Regions from separate parts of the Homo sapiens genome. Here region 2 is linked to region 1. A link means that fine-mapping ties the variant in region 1 to the expression of a gene that starts in the linked region. Tissue or cell type: testis. Region 1 holds a variant in brackets; the other region holds the start of a gene. All regions are shown on one strand. Distances are from middle to middle.

Evidence for each region. PIP is the estimated chance that this variant, and not a neighbour inherited with it, causes the effect.
Region 2: INTS6-AS1 starts here. The variant in region 1 is fine-mapped to the expression of INTS6-AS1 in testis (GTEx, PIP above 0.99).

Annotation. Positions count from the first base shown.
Region 1 is chr13:51,503,497-51,508,871 of GRCh38, reverse strand. No RefSeq gene overlaps it. Among named protein-coding and RNA genes, the nearest start is that of MIR4703, 46 kb to the left of the region's middle. The variant C/T (reference allele first, on the strand shown) is at 2,329.
Region 2 is chr13:51,451,007-51,456,381 of GRCh38, reverse strand. INTS6-AS1 (INTS6 antisense RNA 1) reads right to left here and starts at 3,037. Exons shown (of 2, transcript NR_103812.1): 1 at 2,964-3,037; 2 at 1,666-2,379. It overlaps INTS6 (integrator complex subunit 6), which reads left to right and starts at 3,346. Exons shown (of 18, transcript NM_012141.3): 1 at 3,346-3,967; 2 at 4,327-4,404; 3 at 5,208-5,357. The coding sequence starts at 3,857. RefSeq lists silencers at 2,581-2,900, 2,991-3,190, 3,421-3,680, 3,921-4,190, 4,201-4,320 and 3 more and an enhancer at 3,311-3,360.

The DNA of each region.
Region 1 (5,375 bases):
AAAAAACACTCTGACCTGGTCACAGAAGAAATCCGCTCATTTTCTTCTCTTAAGAGTCCTGGAGAAGTACATATTATTCCACTACCCAAATGTTTTGTAAATGCCTACTGTTCTGGATGCTAGGAAAACAGTGGTGAACAAAACTGACAAGCCTCCATGGGGCGTTTGGCCTAATAGGGATAAACAGACAATGAACTAAATAAGTAAATTATTTATGTAGGATGTTAGAAGATGGTAAGTGTTTATGGAGAAAATAGATCAGGGAAGGGGGAAAGAAGTGCTAGGGGAGGGGGTGTGTGTGGAGTAGAGGGGATGCTTACCACGTGAAATAGGGTAGTCAGGGAAGACCTCAGTGAGAAGGAAACATGGGAGTTAAGGCTTGAAGGAGGTGAGGGAGTGGCCAGTGCGGATGAAGACAGTTCCAGGCAAAGGGAACAGAAAATGCAAAGGCCTTTCAGTAGGAGCTTGCCAATATTTCAAGAACAGCTAGAAAGCCCATGTGGATGGAATAGAGTGAGCAGAAATAAGAGTAATGAAGACTAGATTGGCAAAAGGTAGAGTTGGAGGGCCAGATCTTATGGGTCTTGCAGACCACTGTGAGGACTTTGGCCTTTTTTTTTTCTTTGACAGAGTTTCGCTCTTGTCACCCAGGCTGGAGTGCAATGGCATGATCTCAGCTCGCTGCAACCTCAGCCTCTGGGTTCAAGTGATTCTCCTGCCTCAGCCTCCTGAGTAGCTGGGATTACAGGTGCCCGCCACCACACCCAGCTAATTTTTTTTTTGTATTTTTAGTAGAGATGGGGTTTCACCATGTTGGCCAGGCTGGTCTCAAACTCCTGACCTCAGGTGACCTGACCGCCTTGGCCTCCCAAAGTGCTGGGATTACAGGCATGAGCCACCGTGCCCAGGGACTTTGGCTTTTACTAGGACTGAGATAGGAAGCTGTTGGAGAATTTGATCAGAGAACTGACTTGATCTGGGTTACATTTTCAAAGGTTCCCAGAATCTTTGGTTGCTATAGAATATGGATTGTTAGGGGATAAGATGATAAATCAGGCAAGAGAAGATGAGGACCTGGGCCAGGATTGTAGCAGAGGAGGTAGTTGGATGTGGTCAGATTCTGGATCTATGTTGAAGGTAGGCCCAATAGGATTTCATGATGGATTAAATGCAGTGTATGAGAGAAAGGAAGAAATTAAAGATGAGTCAAAGGTTTTTTGGCCTGAACAACTGGAAAGATGAAGCTGCTAATGAAGTGAGATGAAGGTTGTAGAAGGGAGCAGATTTGGAGGGGAAGGCTAAGAATTTGGTTTTGTACATGTTGAGTTTGAGATGCTCTTTAGCCTTTAAAAGAGAGATAACAGGTTGTCAGTTGAATGTAAGAGCTCAGAGTTTTGGAGTGATATCTGCTGAAGATAAAAATTTGGGAGTCATCAAAATGGAATTGATTTTTAAAGCCATGACACTGAATGAAATAATGAAGGGAGTGGTTATGGGAAGAAAATATAAACGGTCCAAGGCCTGAACCCTGGTACTCCAGTGCTAAGTGGCTAAGCATACAGCTGTTATAGCGTGTTCACAAGTTATTGTAATCATTTATGCTTGTCTCACACTTCCACTAAACTGTCATCTCCTTGATGGAAAGAACTGGATCTTATTTCTTGTAACAGCTTTATGTGAAGTATAATTTATGTACCATAACACTGACTTGTTTAAATACACAATTCAATGACTTTCTGTTTTTACTAATTTTATATCTTCAATGACAATTATATGGTTAACACTTAATAAAAGTTTTTAAAATAAATGTTGAATTTTTAAATAAATGAATGAATGTATGTGATTTTTAGGTCAGCCCTTTACATCTCTCGATATCACTTAATTGCATGCAAAACAAGGTGGCTGACTAGAGAATTTTTAATTCTCTTTCAACTTTGAAATTTAAAGGTTCCAAATGTTTGTTTCTGAGGTGTGATAGTTACTTTTATGTATCAACTTGGCCAGGCCATGGGATATCCTGACACTTTATCAAACAATACTCTGGATGTACCTGTGAGGAAGTTTCTGGTGAGAATAATATCTGAACTGGAAGACTGAATAAAGCAGATTGCCCTCCCTAACGTGGGTGGACTTCATCCAATAAATTCCAGACCTGAATAGAACAAAAACCCGGAGTAAGAGGGAACTCCTCTTGCTTGACTGCGTAAGCTGAGAGACATCAGTCTTTTCTTACCTTTAGACTCCAACTGGAAAATCAGCTCTTCTTGGTTTTGAAGCATGATGGCTTCCGGACAAGCACTAATACCATTGACTCTCCTGATTCTCAGG[C/T]CTAAGAAGTTCAAGATAAAATTTTGGCAAATCAAATTCAGCAAGATATAAAAAGGAGATAATATGTAGTGAACAAGTGAGGGCTTATTCCAGGAACACAAGGTTGGTTAACATTGTGTTAATGTTTTGAACATTAATCAATGTAACTCATCATTTATTAAGAGATAAAAATCTCTCAGTAGATTTGGATTAAAAGGTAACTTTCTCAACCTAGTAAAGGACATCTACAATACAGAAACAAAAACAAAAAACTTAAGGTTAAGATCATCTTTAATGTTGAAAGATTGAATGTTTTTTTCCTAACCCTGGGAATACAGAAAACGTATCCACTATCACCATTTCTATTCAACATTGTGCTAGAGATCTGTCAAGACAATAAGGAGGGTGAGGGTGGAAAAAGAAGGGAAGAAACAGAAGAAACATAAATTTGAATGAAGAAGTAAAACTGGCTTTATTCACAGGTAAAATTATTGTATTAATAGAAAATCCCTAAGAACCAAGAAGAAATATAATAGAACTTATGAAATCTCAAGAAATAAGGCTATAGATCAGCATGGTGGCATGTGCTGATAATCCCAGCTACTTAAGAGGCTGAGACAGGAGAATTACTGGCACCTAGAAGTTCGAGGTAAGCTTGGGCAACATAGCAAGTCCCTGTCTCAAATTAAAAAGAGAAGAGATATAAAGTTAATATACAAAAGTCCATTGTATTTCTATACAAGAAAATAAACAATATAACAAGCAATGAACAACTGGAAAATGAAATTAGAATTCTGTTTATGGTAACATTAAAAATGAAATACTTATGGAAAATTAAATATACACGAAACCTATAGACTGAAAAATATAGAAGACTGCTGAATTTTAAAAAGGTCTAAATAAATGCCGTGATATATCATATTTATGGTATATCAGACTTTTTGTAAAAACTGACAAATGGATTTTAAAAGAACCAAGAATAGTCAAAATAATTTTGCAAAAGAAACAGTTGCAGAAATTACTCTACCTGATTTCAAGAAGCTATAGTGATCAAGACAGTGTGATTTGTCCAAACAATGGGCATGTAGAGCAGCATAATAAAATAGAATACATAAGTAAACACATACACCTATGATAACTGATATTCAACAATGGTACAAATATAATTCAATGGGAAAGTATAGTTTTTTCAAAAATGGTACCAAAGCAACTAGAAATCTACATGAAAAAAAATGAACCTCAACCCTATCTAACACCATACATAAAAATTTACTCAAAGTGGATTAAAGACATAAATATGAAAGCTAAAATGATAAAACTTCTGGAAAAAATGGGAGAAAATCTTTGTGGCAGTGGAGTATGCAAAGAAAAAGATGTTTTTGATAAGATACAAGAAAAGCATGATTCATGCTATGACAGAAATACTGAACACGTATAATAAAATAAAGTAAAATGAAATTTTAAAAGCACAATCCATACAAGAAAATAATGACAAATTTGATTTCATTAAAATTTTTTTTCTTTTTTTTTACAGAGTCTTGCTCTGTCGCCCAGGCTGGAGTGCAGTGGTGCAATCTCATCTCACTGCAAGCTCCACCTCCCAGGTTCACACCATTCATCTGCCTCAGCCTCCCAAGTAGCTGGGACTACAGGTGCCCGCCACCACGCCCAGCTAATTTTTTGTATTTTTAGTAGAGACGGGGTTTCACCGTGTTAGCCAGGATGGTCTCGATCTCCTGACCTCATGATCCGCCTGCCTCGGCCTCCCAAAGTGCTGGGATTACAGGTGTGAGCCACTGCACCTGGCCTAAATTTTGTTTTTAATTAGCTCTTCTAATGACTTCTTTTAAAATACAAAAATGCAAACCACAGACTGGAAAAATATATTTATAACACATATATTTGACAAAGGACTTTATTGAGAATATAAAACAAACTTTTACCACTCACTATTAAGAAGAAAAACAACCCAATTAAATAGGCAAAAGATTTGAACCAACACCTCACAAAGGAAGGTACGGGGAATGGCTGGTAAGTGCATGAAAATCCATCAGGGAAATGCAACTTAATCATCAAGAAAATGTAAATCCAAATCACAATAAGATATAACTTCGTGTCCATTAGAAAAACTAAAATTTAAAAAACTGGCAACCCCATCTGTGGGTGAGGATGTAAAGCAACCACCAATTTCTTATAAAACAAAATGTGCGCCCACCCTATGGCCCATCAAACTTACTCATAAGTATTTCTTACCCAAGGGAAATAAAAATATATGTTCACAAAACACCATATATTAATACAAGAATGTTCATAGCAGCTTTATTTATAATAGCCAAAACCTGGAAATAACCTGAATGTCCATCAGTAGAAGAACGGCTAAATAAATTGTGGTACGTCTTTACAAAAAAAATTACTCAACAATAAAAAAGCATATTCTTCCAATATATGCAACCATGTGGATGAATCTCGAAAACATTATGCTGAGTGAAAGAAGCCAGATACAAAAAACACACACCGTATGATTCTATTTGAAATTTTGGGAAAAACAAACTAATCAATAGTGACAGAAAGCAGATGCAGGGTGAAATCAGCTAGGATCTAGCCAGTGTTGTCTTGCTAACTAGTCATGCAAGCTTGAGCAGGTCACTAGACCTTCCTGCTCCTTCATTTCCTCAAATATAATAGATAATTAGACAAACCCAGGTCATATGTGCTAGCTGAGATTCAAGGTCTCTTCCAGTGCTAAATTCTTGGTCTCTTCTGCATCCAGACCCATGGTGATATAAAAGGAAAAAATGTATTCGTGATGCTTACATTGAATTCCTAAAACTTAGTATAATTGTCATGAAGTGGTTTTGTCAAAGAAGCGAATCATTGTCTAGATAATTTTTCTTTTGCCAGAGAAAGTTAGGAATTAATAATAAAATAGGCCAGAAAAGTGAAGAAAGGGTTCTAACTGCAGTGGCAGGAGGCCTGGGCTTTTGATAGAAAACGCTGAGTATGGTGGGGAGGGGGGGGAGGGGGGGAGGGAGGGTGGGGGGGGTTAGGCTAAGTAGCAGAAAGAAGTA
Region 2 (5,375 bases), 52 kb after region 1:
ACAATGAGATGACCTGCTTGCAGACAGGAGCTACCCACTGTGGGTCTATGGACACTGTGGGTCTCCTCTGTGGAGAGCTGAGCAGATGACAGGACCACCTGCCTGCTGAGAGGAACTACCCATTGTGGGTCTCCTCTCTGCTGAGAGCTGGACACTTATTGGGATGACCTGCCTGCAGAAAGAAGCTACTCATTGCCCTCAGGTCTCCTCTGAGCTGTTCTGTCACTCAACAAAGCACCTCTTTGCCTTGCTCACCCTCCACTTGTCCACATACCTCATTCTTCCTGGATGTGGGACAATAACTCGGGACCTGCCAAATGGCATGGCTGAAAGAGCTGTAACACAAACGGGCTGAAATATGCCCCTTGCTTGCCATGTTGTGGGCAACACAACAAGAGAAGAGAGAAGAAGAGAAGAAGAAAGGAAAGAGAAGGGGGAAGAGAGGAGAGAAGAGCTGTGGCCCTTTAGGAAGCCTAGACCTAGGAGCTCCCTGTGACAACCTCTTTGGGGCTCTGCAGCTCCTGGCATCTCCAAGCTTCCAGGTGCCACTGCATTCCCTGGTGCCAGCTGTGGAAGCTGCTTGCAGTACACCTGGACCAGCCACAGCCTTGCAAGGGGCCAGCCCCTAGAGCTGCCCGCCCTCCTGCAGCTGGCATGCCGGGCTGTATACAGTGGCCGGACCCCATGCTTGCTCGCTCACACACCCCTCGCTGCTCCGCACCTGGCTTGCACTTGGCAGGTGTGGGATCCAGGCCGTAGTATGAGCAGAGTGCAGCCTGCTGGGACTGGTGGGCAGAATGAGCCCGACCAAAATTCGGGCAGAGGTGCCATTTTTCCAGCTGGAAAAGTGACACTCCAAGGATCCTGTGACAATGGCTCCACTGAAAAATGATTTCGAATAACTGTAATAATAGGTAAGGTCATTGTGAACGCATGTTAATCTTCAGTAGTCTAGTTTGATTTCTTTCAAACATTGCTTCTACTTAGCAACGCAATTGAAAAATAAATCTCCAATTTATAGGGGAAAAAAAACCTCCATAGATTGGAATAAAGGCCCTCTACTGTCTAGATCTCACCTGTGTTTCTAGATCTTGTACTATTCTACATGCACCTGTTGCTCCAACCTAGCTGAACTTCACTGTTCCTCAGGAAGCCCTCAGCAATGCTGTCTTAACTTCCTTTCTTCACATTTTCAATGTCGGGAAGATCTTTTCACTAGCAGCTTCCCCTTCCTTTACCCATATCCAAATCCTACCAGTCCTTTAAGACAGTGTTTCTTAAAACTGAATAATGAACAGACTCCTAAAATAAATTCTTATGATCCTAGAGAATGTTTTCAGTAGGCTGGGGTCCACAGACCAGTTTGAAAAGCACAAATATAAAGAACTAAAGAGCAATTGTATAAAATTATGCAAATGATCAAGTTGAAAGACAAATTTCATCTTTATAACTGGTAAAATAACTCGTATTTTGCCATAGAACTCTGATTCTTATCTTCAGATCTATGATCCGTTTAAGAAACACTAAGGCAAAGCTGAAACCTTGGAAAATGTTCCTGCATCACCCCAAGGTAATACATTTTTATTTTTTCTGATTTGGTGTCTAACAACTTTCTGCCTTGGAGTAGCTAGTAATATGTAGCATTTTCCTAGAAAACATAAGCTCTTTGAAGACAGGGACCACATTTTATTTATTTTTTATATGCACCACACCTAATACACAGTACATCCTCAGCAAGTACTGGCTGTAAAGCCTATATTCCATGCTCTTATTTTGTAGTCCAAATCACTTTAAAAATCACACTTCTTCTATTGTTCATACTCATAGAAGAGCATATTACTCAAATAGCTCTGCTATAAATTAACAGTAAGTTTCAGAAGTTATACCAAGTCACGAGACTCAGATTTTTAAAAAGTGCCACAAAGTGTCTCTTCTGTGTCAATGTTAATAGAACCCTTTCTTTAAATGATCAGTAGGCAAATTAAGAATTTCCGGATAAAGAACAAACTCTGGAAAAACAAAGCTAGTGGGAGAGGCCCTGTAAATACCTACCTAGTCTTACAAGGGCTGTCTCTAACTCAGCTTGTATTTTAGGCAGCGTCTTCAGTTTTTCAACTAATGTGTTTGAGAAAACTGTTTTCCTCGGACATGCAGGCGTGGACTCCTTACTTCAGGTAAGGTGACAGCAGCTTGACAGAGAGTGCCTTCCCTCCCACGGCATTTGGGACGAGGCTGAAGGAAAGACACAGGCGGGGTTACGGGAAACCCATTCTCTGCGCCATCTGGGCAAGCTGAAGTCAGTTTTTCCGCTTTCTCACGAGGTAATGGATTATCATGGGCTCAGGTCCCCTTCAGCTCTGAAACAGGTATTCTATGGCTCTAAGTAAACACGGCAAGAGACAGGTTATTTCTTTGGTAAGATCAGTTGTATTTCCCAGAGAATAAAACGGGCAACAAACCATTTATCGATATGTGAGTCTTCCCCCTAGGCCCTAGCTATTTGGGGTTGGATAAAGAAAAAGAGGGTTTGCTTCCTTTTTGGCGGGTCCTCCAATGACAGGGCTCCTGGCCCGCTGCGGGTCCAACTCCCACCTCTCGTGGCTCCCCCGAGGCCGAGCGAGGCTCCGTGCGAGGACAGCCCCTCAACCGCACTCCCCAGAGGGAGCGCTGGGACTCGCGGAGGAGATTAGTCCCCGGTCATAAACAACCTCTCACTTCCCCTCCCCCGCCCGCGCCCGCTCGCGCCGGGGCGGCGCGCCGGGGCGGCCCTCCGAGGCCCAGGAACCTCCTCCGGCGCCCGCGAGGCCCCGAGTCCTCCTCCGGAGGGCGGCTGCGGGCCTGCCCTCTTCTCCTAACCAGGTGTTTGTCCACTTTACTCAACCCTTCTTACTCGTCCACGCTACGGCCACCTCACAGGGGCGGCTGACGCCAGCCCCTTTTTCCCTCCCCTCGACCCCTATCACCTCCAACAGCCAAGGAGAGGCCGGCGGCCCTGACGCGCAGGCTCACCGCCGCGGCCGCCCCGCGCGCGCGGACGCGGCCCCCGCCCCCACCTCGCGGTCCTTCCGCAGTCCGGCCCCGCCCCTTCCCGAAGCCCGCCTCCGGGTCGGCCCGCCCGCCCGCTCGCGCGCACCCGACGCCCCGCCTCTGCGCGTGCTCAATAACTGTCCCCGGAGCCGGCCTACAAGCTTCCCCCGCCCCTGAGCTGTTTAAATATGCTAATGAAAGGATAGGGCCTGACCAGTAGAACGGCGAGGCGGTGTATCACGTGGCTCGGGGACGTGTCAGGGGCGGAGCCTCCGCAGCCCCTGCCCGAGTTAAAACCGGAGTGTGAGAGAGAAAAGCGCTTCAGTAGCGAGAGGGGCTGAGAAAGTGGTGACACCGCCGGGGTGCGGAGGGAGTCCCTGAAACTTCTCCCAACAGCCCCAGGGCCAATCTTCCCTCAGCCCACTCCCCTCTTCGCCAGCTCCCAGGTCCCCACTCCTGTACCGGGGGTGGGGTGGGGAGCCAGGCCCGTCTCCCGCTGGGACACACACAGGGGCCGGGAGCGGGGACGGGACCCCCGAGGCGGGGGGGACGAACCGACAGACAGACGGCTGGGCGCCCGCCCCAGCGGGCAGGCAGGCAGGAGGAGGCGGAGGCGGGGGTACGACGGGGAGCACTGGGTCTGGGGAGTTTCCTCTCAACTATCGGGGGAGAAACTCCCCGCAGCCGGAGGAAAGACCCAGACAGTGTTTTCCTCCCGGGGGCCGTGCTCCCCCGCCCCGCGTAGCGGCGGTCGCCGCCACCGGCGCCTCCACCTCTACCATCTCCTCTTTCTCCACCACCTCGGGCCCCGGTGTCCCCGGCCAGCACTATGCCCATCTTACTGTTCCTGATAGACACGTCTGCCTCTATGAACCAGCGCAGCCATCTGGGCACCACCTACCTGGACACGGCCAAAGGCGCGGTAGAGACCTTCATGAAGGTACCGACTGACCGAGCCCGGGCGGCGACCCCGGCCCGGCGGCCCGCGGGCGGCAGGGTGGGGGAGGGCGGCCGGGGCGGGGGTGTCGGGGACCTGACTGCGGGAGCTGCCGGGCTCGGGGACCCCCTCCCCCACCGCGCGGGCGGGCGGGCGCTGCGAGCCGGGTTCGGCCGGGGCCCGGGCTCCGGCCCCGGGCGGTGTGTGGGGAGCGATCTGTGTGTGGGGGACGGCGTGGAGGGGTGGCCGCTGCGTGTGCGGTACTGTGGGGGCGGCGGGGCCGCTGGGCGCCCCTTCTCCGCCTCGTAACCTCGCCTCTGTGCTTCCCTGTCGCCCGCCCTGTTCCTCCTCCCGTCCCGCAGCTCCGTGCCCGGGACCCTGCCAGCAGAGGAGACAGGTATATGCTGGTCACTTTCGAAGAGCCGCCCTATGCTATCAAGGTAACAGCCCTCGCCCTCCCCCTTTCCTCCCTTCCCTTCCCTGTTCCTTCCTCGCTCGCCCTCCCCGCCCCCCCATTCACCCTTCATTATGCTCCCCTCCCCCACCCGCTGCGCTCCCAGCCGCTGAGGTCTCTTCCCTGCGGGCTCCCACCCCCTCCCCCGCTCGGCAGCGTCCTAGCGCGGCGCGGAGTCGCGGGGCCACCGCCGTCCCCTCCCGGCCCGGCCCGGCAGCGGCGGCGGCGGCGGCGGCGGCGGCGCTGCTATCAACATGGCCGACATTTCCCCTCCGCGGCGTGAGCGGCAGCAATGAACTGTGGGGGATATTTATTCAAGTTAGCCGGAGTGACAGCCGGGCCCGGCCGCGCACAGCCCCGGTTTGCATTAAAGGGGAATCGGCCCGGCCGGCCCGGAAGCCAGATGCGGGGCTGCCAGGATTGGTCTTGTCAGATTCGTCCTAAGAGGGCCGGTGGGACAGCTGCAGGTTAACTTCCTAAGTCCGGCTCCCATCTGCTTCCACTAGTACCTTCACATACCCAAATTTTGGGTATTAGATTAGGTAGTAAATTTGTCAGTGAAGTTATAAAGTATTAAGGCAGTTAACTACCAAAACCTAGAGAGGAAGCTGGGTTATTCCTGGGCCACCTTTGGAAGAGAGTTTCCTCAGCAGCGGTACAGTATTAACACGTTAACCAAGCCAAACCAACCAAAAGTGAAGCTGCTACTTGGTGAACGTCAGATTATAACGGCTCTGTGTACATGGCTTTAAAAAATGAAAAAAAAAAATCTTACATTTTTCTTTTCAGGCTGGATGGAAAGAAAACCATGCAACGTTTATGAATGAATTGAAAAACCTTCAGGCTGAAGGACTTACGACTCTTGGCCAATCCCTAAGGACAGCTTTTGATTTATTAAATTTAAATAGATTAGTAACTGGCATAGACAACTATGGGCAGGTAGGTTGAATAATAAGG